Regions from separate parts of the Homo sapiens genome. Here region 1 is linked to region 2. Evidence: fine-mapped expression QTL. Tissue or cell type: monocytes. Region 2 holds a variant in brackets; the other region holds the start of a gene. All regions are shown on one strand. Distances are from middle to middle.

Region 1 (5,148 bases), 460 kb before region 2:
AATCTCTGGTTCCAGAAAATCATTTATTGTGTGAGCTGAAATGTGCCTCAGTGTCAGATTCATGCTTTGGTCCAAGGTTTGCCCTATGGAACATGTAGGACAAGTGTTCCCTGAGGTATGGGTAGAGGCAGTGTGTTTAGTGGGAAGCTGGTAGTCTTCAGAATTAAGCAGATCTGGGTTCACTTTCTGGCTTAGCCATTGACAAGCTGAGTGAGTCTGGATACTATAGAAGATGGCTTAACAGCCATAATTCCTTCCATCCCAGTATGACCCTCCTTTGCAATGTGACTTTGCAACTCCTCAAATCCAGAGGTAGATTCCATTTTTCCACCTCCTTGAATCTGGGCTGGCCTTTGAACTTGCTTTGGTCAACAGAATGTGGAGAAAGTCATACTGGAAAAGGTCTGAAGCTTAGGTCTCAGGGGCCTTGCTCCTTCTGCCTAGTTCCTCTTGGGATGCTGCCCTGAACCTGCCATATAAGGAAGTAATCTAGCCTATTAGATGTAAGAGGATGCTTGGAGGAGAACCGAGGTGTCCCAGCCAACAGCCTGCATGCTCTGACTAGAGCTTCTTCAATGTCAGCTCCTCCCCTGAACTTATGCAGGTGTTTTCTTGGAACTTAAATGTAAGACTTAACATTTAATCCGGAGGAATTTATTTTGATTTTTAGAGATGGGGTCTCCCTTTGTCATCCATGCTGGAGTGCAGTAGTGCAATCACAGTTCACTGTAGCCTCAGACACCTGGTGTCAAGCAATCCTCCCACCTCAGCATCCCAAGTAGCTGGGACTACAGACCCACACCACCATGCCTGGTTAATTTTTGTTTGTTTGTTTTTGTAGAAACGAGGTTTCACTATGTTGCCCAGGCTAGATTCGAACTCCTGGCTTCAAACAATCCTCCTGCCTCAGCCTCCCCAAATACTGGGATACAGGCATGAGCTATGGTGCCCAGCCCGAAATTTCTTTTTGTTAGTCTTAGCAGAGCACTCCACCTGTGCCAGGGCAATCGTGTTTTTTTTTTGTTTGTTTGTTTTGTTTTTTTGAGACGCAGTCTTGCTCTGTCGCCAGGTTGCAAACTCCACCTCCCAGGTTCAAGCAATACCCCTGCCTCCCTGCCTCAGCCTCCCGAGTAGCTGGGACTACAGGCACGCACCACCACCCCCAGCTAATTTTTGTATTTTTAGTCGAGAAGGGGTTTCACCACATTGGCCAGGATGATCTCGATCTCTTGACCTCGTGATCCACCCGCCTCAGCCTCCCAAAGTGCTGGGATTACAGGCGTGAGCCACCACTCCCGGCCAATTGTGGTTTTATATCTGTCATTTATTTCTCCACTTAGTTCATCTAGATCAGATGATTATTACTTCCATGTTTTCTATCAGTTCCTAAAAAAAAAAAAAACGTGAAATAGGACCGTGCCAGGGAAGGAAGCTTAAGGGACACTACTAAACACCTCTTCCATGCCTGTCACTGAGCCAGTCAATATTATTAACTATGTTATGCATGCATGTTATTTCCAAGCCTACAGATTGCTTTCACACATTAGCGTGTTCATCCATAGTGAATGTGGCCAGCGGAAATCTATATGGGCAGTAACATTCTTTCCTGAAGTCAAGATATACCACGTCTAGTAATGCTCTCCTGAATAAGTTATTTATTGAGTATCGACATCACAATCTACGTCTTTTCTCTTTGTTTATTGGATCACAGTGAATATAAAACTATACCTATAGTTACGATTATACAAAAGAATCTTAAGTCAGTGGTCATGGGTAAGACAGTAAACCAATTTATCTGCTTTCAGAGCTTTTAAGAAGTCAAAGTGCAAAAATGACAGTTTTGTGCAAAAAGAATTTTCAACGAGCCTGACAGCCAAAATATACCTGAAGTCGCTGCGAGACTTTACTTGGATTTTCATGAGATCGTTTGTGTGTGAGCACGCTCGTGTTTTTCCCAGAGCAGGTGTAATGATGGGTCTTTACTTACTCTCCCCACTCCCCACCCCCTTCGCACACTCTTTCACCTTGGGAAGGGTATGGGAATGAAGAAAGGAGTGTTAATCGGGTTCCCAGCGTTCCCTTATCTTTCACCTAGCTCCCTAACTACTGTGGATGTTAGGTTTGGGCACACCCATTTCAAGACAAGGAGACTGGTTCTCGAGGGAAGTGTGAGACTGAAGTTACAGAGCCTGTCAAAAGCGGAGCCTTATAGAGGGAGTAAAATCCCACGTGCTTCGTGCTGCAGCAGCTGGAGGGTGGACCTGGGTCGACCTGGGGGGATGCTCAGCCCTGCGGGTCCGGGAGCGCGCAGAACAGCGGGGAGGGCTTCTCCCTCTTCTGGGTAGGGGCGCGCTAGGTGGAGCCCCACCTCCCCTCCGCGGAGACCCACCCTCCGAGCCGGGAGAGGCGTTGCGGGGGGGTGGGGGGGGCGTGTCCCCTGGCGCAGCGCGGCCAGCGCGCACGCGCAGCGGGCGGAAGGTGCCCGGGCCCACTTTGAGCGCGCGGCTGCGCACTGAGCCGCCGGCCCTCCCGGAAGCGCAGAGCTCCGCTGGTGCCACGTCTATCCCCTTACATCCTCCTAGGACCCGGTCGGTAGTCGTCGCCCCAGCCCGCCGGGGGCGCAGCGCCCGAGCCGCGGCCCTCGAGACGGGACCGAGAGCATCATGGGCAGCACTGTCCCGCGCTCCGCCTCCGTGCTGCTTCTGCTGCTGCTCCTGCGCCGGGCCGAGCAGCCCTGCGGGGCCGAGCTCACCTTCGAGCTGCCGGACAACGCCAAGCAGTGCTTCCACGAGGAGGTGGAGCAGGGCGTGAAGTTCTCCCTGGATTACCAGGTGAGGCCGGGCGCCCGGCAGCGCTCCCTTCTCCCTCCACTCCCAGGTCTCACCTGGACACTGGCTAGCCCCTGACTGGAGGCGCTCGAATTAGCCACAGGCTACAGGGAGGCTGCATGGGGTGGGAGTCCCCGGAGACCAGTTGACTTCCCCGTGAGGAGGAAGGTTTGGGTCATCAGGGCCCACCCGAGACGAGCCTGGCCAGCGAGGAGGTAGTCAGCGCCGCAGGTGCGAGCCCGGGATGGGGACGCCAGGGCGGATCCCGCAGCCTGGGGAGCTGGCCAAAGAGATATCCGCAGGCCCCCGAGACACTAACCAACGGCAGTTCTGATCGGCTGGACACAGGCTCTCTAACCCCAGTCTCTTAGACCACCTTGTGCCTTCGAGTACTGAAAAATGGCAGCAAGAGGAAGTGGGCTCATAGTTTTAGTTTATTCCTCCCCTCTCCAGCGTTTAAAGTTGGAGTGAGGTGAGGGCAGCAGAAGTGAGAATGGGCACTTTGGAAAGGAGGGATCAGTGCAGCCATTGAGGCCTGGCGGTGTTTACAAGGAGCGGTGTGGCTGCAAGACTTGGCTCTTGCCATATGGCTTAGAAAAGCTCAGTTCCTGTATTCCTGTCTCCTTTGAGAGATCCCGTGGCCCACAGGTGACAGGAGCAGGTCTTGAGTGAGTAGTCTGCCCCGATATTTAGTGAGCAGGTCTAGGGTTGGGGGCCAAGTGGGCATCATACTCAGACAGCTATCTGCTTGTGGACGCATGCTGATAGGCACTTCAGAAATGAGGGGCCACGGGCAGCAGGAATGGGGGCAAGCTATTTGACCAGTTCCTCTGTGGTTAGAGGCACTGAAGGAAGCTTGCGCTTGGAGACAACTTCTATGTGGTAGTCTCAGTCACTGATTTGTCCACTTTCAGGTCTTTGTGGACAACATGCAAATTGTGACTGGGTTAACATGGGCAACCTAGGTGCAATGACAAAAAGAATGATAATTCTGTGGTTGCAGGGACCTCAGATGTCATCTGGTCACTGCCAGGGCGGAAATCCCTTGTCAAAGTGTGTCCAGCCTGGGTTTAAACACACTTAGCAACAGGATACTCACTGCTTTTTGCAAAGCTTGCTGAGCAGGACTAGTAACTTTTGTCCGGACAAAGAGGCCATTTAAATTTGGAAGCAGATGGAGGCCATTGACCGTGTCCTTTGATGGATCTTGGTTATAGCCATTGCCTACCTGTGAGATTTTGCTTTATGTGGGTCTTATTTTTCTTATGTTACAAGGAGAGTTTGAACTAAATGATTCCCAAAGACTCTTCCACCGCTGACACTCAGAAATTCCATGAATACTTCGATCAATATTTTTCTTCTCCTTGCATTCAGTCATTAATAATATATTGTTAATAGCTACTTGACCCATTCAGCAAGCCAAGAATGACCCTTGCTGGTGGGGGGAGGGGGAACACCTGTCTGTTATTGGAACGGAGAAGCAGGAGGTGCAGCATGCATGCTCTAGGGTGGCCCCCAAATCAGATCCCACATCTCCACTGCAACCCCAGGGGGTTAGTTTGCAGTCTGACGATTGTCCAGTAATTGGCTGGCACTTTTGGGGCCCTTGCTAAATTTATGTTGGACACCGTGCTAAACACTTTAGGTGTGATAACTTATTGACTCCTCACTTCATGGATAAAGACATATCCTCAGAGAATAAAGTAACTTGTCTAGGGTCACATGGCTAATGAGTGGCAGTGCCCTAAATCAGTGATTTGCTGTGTGTCTTGTGTTAAGTATTGAACAAAGATAAAGAATCGGTGGCATCTAGTTGCATTGGAATAGTTTCTTGGACATCCCTCCTCATCTTGCTCTTGATTTCGGGAAGCTTTATCAGCACCATCTCAGGAAGAGCAGTTATCCTGGGGTATGTTCATTCATGCTTCAGAATAGTGCAATAGGTAAATGTTTAGGCACTGGAACCAAAAGCTCTCAAGGCAGATCTCATCTCACCACTTTCTCTTGTGTAACCTTAGGGAATTTACTTAACCTTGGAACCTCAGTTTCTTCTTCTGTAAAATGGAAAGGATTAGGCTCATTGAAACCCTGCAGAGCAAACTTGGGAGTCAGGCAGGCATAGATTCAAATCTTAGCCCTTTCACTTTCAAGCAGTGTGACCACAGCCAATTTATTTAACCTTGCTCAGCCTTAGTAAAATGAGAAGTGGCGTAGCACCTGCCTTAGAAAGTTTTGAAGATGAAGTGACAGAAATGTTTGTAGAGTCTGATCACAGTGTCTGGTTGGCATTTGGTAAGTGGTGGTTGCTCCTTTGATAACA
Region 2 (5,148 bases):
ATTAAAGATTGAAGATATAAAACTGGTTTGTTGATGGTCTGAACTCAGTGGGACACAAACGTGAATTTTTTTTCAGAGTCTTCAACTCTGCCTTGTCTGTTTCTCTTATCAACACCTTGATGACACTTAGGGCAAAACCTACATAGCTTTCTGGTCACTTTTAGGTAATTTTCTTTTTAAGTCCAGTTGCATTGAAAACTTAAACTTCTTATTATCCTGTCTCCTCTCCCAAGTGTTCTCTTAGTTACACCGACTGACCATCCATGCCCTCCATGTAGCAGGCACTCAAGTGCTGGTTCTTGGGGAGGTTAGAGGCAGCGGGGCATAAGCTTTTCAGAAAGGTACTCTCCGTGACACAGGGAGATGGCTCTGGCACCTCTCTCAATATGGAATATTTAGTATTTAGTATTTATTTTCCTCAACTTTAAGGCATTGACAGCAATTCTAGACAACACAGAAAGCCACGTTTATCAATATTCTTTCACACAAGCTTCCCCCTCTCTGGTATATCTTCTGCATTTCAGAGACAGAAACCACATTCAATAATGCCATCTGATTATCTTTGAGCAGCTCCCCATCACTAAGAGGACAATGCTTAAATTCCTTAATAGGAACTACTGTAAGGGAAGGGGGCGAGGAGCTAACATTTGCTGTAAGTCTACAGTGTGCCAACCACTTTACATGGGTTATTTTATTTGAAGTTATAACCCTCTTGAGAGGTAAGTCTTATTATTCCAAGTTTTTAATTAAAGTAAATCAGTCACAGGAAGATTAAGTAGTTACCTACAGCACATAGCTATAAGCATAGATGTGGGATTTGAACCCGATTCTAAATCTAAACTTAAAACCTGAACCCCGGTTTCCAAGGCCCAGCTGATCCCACTACTACACTTTGCTGCCTTCCTTCCTGATGTGGAACCTTTGTTTCTGAGCAGGGGCTCCCAACCTAGGCTGCACATTGGAGTCACCTGGAAAACCATTTCTGAGCAGGTGGGGGTGAGGGTGGTCTAGAGGAAGATAGCTTTTGAAAAGCCCCAGGGATTTTAGTGTGCAGCCAAGGCTGAGAACAACTGCTTTAGAGCTCATCTCTGACCTCTTTCTTCCAAGCGCTCTGCTCTAACCTTACAGAGATTCCTGGGGGCTCTCCCACATGGGGCTTGCTTATTCCACCTCCAGGCCTTTGCACATGCTATTCTCTCAGAGTAGAAAATCCCCCCCATGATTTCTCGTCACACAAGATTCAGTCCCAGTGTCATCTCCTCTGTGAATCGTTCCCCAGACCCCATTGGCACAGTTTCTTGCTCCTTTATCCTCAAGGCACATTATGTATAAATCTGTTGCCATTTATCCCAAGTTATTTTAATGATTATTGAACAGTAATTCTTCCCTTTGAGAATCTGAGCTCTTTGATAAGTATTCTCTGTTTCTCCATCTCATAACATCATCCATGACCCAAATCAGGCCCTCAGAAATATTAGTTAAATTAATAAATTTCACTTTCATAGGAATAAAAATCATAATTGGGCAAGGAAGACTCTACTTGTTCTCAGATTCTTCTGTCTCCACCTGTAGTGAGCTTGACCTTGAAACCACATGGGTGGGGTCTTGATATACAAAGAGCAATAAAGCAGCTGCAGGAGAGAGCTGGCCTTGCAAATGTAGCCCCTTAAGGTGACAGCTTATGCGGCAGCTGGTGTTCTGCTACCACAGCCAGGCCCAGCTCCTGGCCGGACCCTTCTTTGCCTGCTGTCCCGTTCCCTGGGCTCCATCTGCAGAACAGGACAGCTCCCATTGCCCTTTCTCTTCACTCCAAGGAACACTGCATTGTAGATTTAACTTGAAGTTCAAAATTCCCAGAAACACTCCACTTTAGAATAGTGACACTCAGAGTGGAAGGTAGGGCTGGCACCTACCTAGCGTGTCCCATCAGCGTCTATGAGCCACTGTCATATGTATCTTCTCTTATAAGCCTCTAAACTCCTCTCAAAAGTAGGCATTATCATACTCATTGAACAGATCAGGAAAGCATAAGTCAGCAGGAACAAGGGACTCATCGCTCATTGCACAACTAATCAGAGACAGAGCCAGGATCCAATGCCAGGTCCCCAGGCCCTGGAGCCAGCACCTCCATCCCTCAGGGCCGCCTGATTCCACCGGGGACATTCCTAGGAGGTGAAACAGAGTTTCTCAACCTTGGCACTGTTGACACTTTGGACTAGATAATTCTTCTGTACAGGGGCTGTGCTGGGCACGGTAAGATGCATCCCTGGCCTCTACCCATTAGATGGCAGTAGCACCTCCCAGTTATGACAACAAAAAATAAAAATTGCCAAATAACCCCTGGTGGCAAAATGCCCCATGGATGTTCACAATGTAAAGGATTTGACCCCATTCCAGTCTCAGATCTTGCTTGCAAATAACTGAAACTGATCCTGGTTCACTTAAGGGGAGAAAAAAGGGATGCATTGGAAATGGTATTGGATGACTCATAAGATCCACGGGGATGCCGTAGAATAAGATTCAGAAAAAAAGAGGAGGGAACAGAGGGGGCCAGATCACCAAAATCACACCACAGGAAAACTTCATTCATCCTTCCAACAAATATTTAATCTAACAACGATGGATGGAGTGCCTACCATGTGCCAGGCCCTTGGGATACGTCAGCAAACAAAACAGACAAAGCGCCCACCCCCATGAAGCTTGCATTCCAGTGGGGAAAACCATAAGCAATAAACATTTTAGAAAGTAAGTAACATGATATATTAGAAAATGGCAAATGCAGCCTTTTTAAAAAGTAGAGGAAGATAAGGGGGAGACGTGGATGCTGAGAGGGGATAGGGAAAGATAGGCCTGATTTAGTCTAGCTGAAACATCACTGCCACACGCAGGTCACTCACTACTTCTGGCACCTGCCTGCTGCCCACTGGAGACCATGAATATCACTTCTATC[C/T]TGAGACTGTAGAGGTCATTGCTAGAGGAATGAATTCTCTGTCCCTTGCTTCTCACCATCGCTAACTCCAGCTTTACTGTCTCAGGTAGGAGCATCTGCTTGGACAAGCCTGGATCACATGACTGCATCCCAGCTCACATGACTGCATCCCAGCAACCCAGACATGGGATGGCAAATGTCTGACCATTTTGGCTTCTATAGTAGGACGTACACATCAGATGCCGGGCTGAAAAAAATAAAAGAATGCCCATTGTGAGGACATAACCTCAGAAATTAGGCCAACAGGCAGGACCGATGAGAGGAATGAGGTAAAGAGATCAGAACACATTAGCAGAGGGTTTATGAAATGAGATTCTGATTCCAGAGGCCAGCTCAGTGGAGCCCATTATGTGTCTTCTTATAAACAGGTCCTTTTAAAAAATCCAACAAACTGTAAATAATTCTGTACAAACTAGATTTCCACTTCAATGAGTCTGTGTTAAGCAAAGTCTGATGAAGAAAAATCGAGCCATTTAGATTGCTGTTTCCATAACCAGGATGGAGTATCACATTTAAATTTGTAGGAACAGTGATTAGGGCACGGGGGGGTCATCGTTTCAAATGCAGCATCTCTCTCCTGTGTTGTATTAAGCACCTCTTCTGGCTGTTTGCCTGAACACGAGGTCTTGATTCATCCTCTAATTGTTGTCAAGATGCAGTTCAGTCACGAAGGTCAAAAAAACAAAATGTCTAAATCGGCAGCAAAATGAACATTCATGCTCCTTCCCATTTCGTTAATCTATTTAAGCCAATTTTGCATCTATTGTTTATGAGATTTTCCTACTGGTTGGTGGCTTTGCAGCACATGTTCACTCAGGACACTCTATCACAGCCATCCTGTTGTTGATGGCCAAGAACTACCAAGATTAGTAGGTAGCCATGCTATACCAGACACTAAATATTTGAACACCTCTCTGGTAGAGCCTCGGGGGAAATTGGCCCTTCTTCTATGTAAGTCATGAAACAGAAATTTGGAACTGACCTTATGGGGTATGGGATCCACTTCACAGGAGTGAAAACAGAGGCCGAAAAAAGCAAGGACTTCCTTAAAGATACACAGTAAGCCCCTGCCTTCCTGGCTTCCTTCCTGGTTCAGGATGAGAATTAAGATCAGCAGAACTTAGAGCAGCTCTGGCCAGTGGAAATACAATGCAAGCCACAAATGCAAGCTGCACATGTCATTCTAAATTTTTCAGTAGGCACATTTTTAAAAGATAAAAAAAGAACCAAGTGAAATAAGCACAAATAATATATATTTTATTTAAATCAGTATATCCAATATATTATCATTTCAACATGTAATCAATAGAAAAAACTATTAAGTCTTTTACATTCTTTACTAAGTCTTCAAACCCCAGTGTGTGTGCATTTTCTATTCGCAGCACATCTCCATCAGGAGTAACTGCACGCAGCTCCTGAGGCTGCCATATTGGACAGCGAGGGAGCCTGCTCTATTTTTGCATCTGGGAAGTTCTTTCTCTAATTAACCAATGAGTTCTCAAAAAACTCTTTTAAGAGTTAGCAGAATGTGAAAAAAAAATAGTGTAATCATTAGAATTTCAGGTTGGGCAGTTGGAAGAATTTCAGTGCCTTGCAATGTGTTTCCAGGGAAGATTAAGTGCATTTCCCTCTCTGGCAATTTTAAGGAACAACTGGACTCCACAAATAGCCATTGAGGGCTGACAGTGCACCAGGTACTGAGCCAGCTGCTGAGGATGCCCCATCAACAAGATAGGCTTTCCCTGTCCTCAAAGCTCTTGGCCCTCAGCAGAGGAACAATCTATGCAAAGAAGGGGGTGGGGATGAATCCACACCATGTCTGCGGTCATGGGATTCTAGCATTGCTCTGTGGGACACCCGTGGCCACTGGAAAGAGAATAGAATAAAGTGCTGGAATGTAGAGTGCTAATAAAGCATTCCTCTTCTTTCTAGGGCTTTAACCAATTGAGAGATGCCACAGAATTCAGATGGTGATCAATGTGTCAGTCTGATGGCTGCTAGTTAGCTCCAAGGATAAAATAGTCTTCCTTCTCCTTCCCCGTGAGGGAAATCCTAGTTACAGAGAGAATAGCTGTAACTCCTAGTTACACAGAGAACAGCTGGACACCTGTGTCTCTCCTCACCAAGAAGCTAGGCTTGCCACACACAAGAATGCATGA

Direction of the effects. Positions count from the first base shown, and alleles are read on the strand shown. Sizes are in standard deviations (SD) of each study's normalised expression.
In carriers of allele C in region 2, the expression in monocytes of the gene that starts at base 2,526 in region 1 tends to be higher than with T alone (large effect, 1.7 SD a copy in CEDAR).

The links. PIP is the estimated chance that this variant, and not a neighbour inherited with it, causes the effect.
Region 1: TMED3 starts here. The variant in region 2 is fine-mapped to the expression of TMED3 in monocytes (CEDAR, PIP 0.95).

What each region holds. Positions count from the first base shown.
Region 1 is chr15:79,308,587-79,313,734 of GRCh38, forward strand. TMED3 (transmembrane p24 trafficking protein 3) reads left to right here and starts at 2,526. Exons shown (of 3, transcript NM_007364.4): 1 at 2,526-2,831. The coding sequence starts at 2,664. RefSeq lists silencers at 2,370-2,419, 2,630-2,699.
Region 2 is chr15:79,767,055-79,772,202 of GRCh38, forward strand. No RefSeq gene overlaps it. Among named protein-coding and RNA genes, the nearest start is that of TRC-GCA5-1, 25 kb to the left of the region's middle. The variant C/T (reference allele first, on the strand shown) is at 2,951.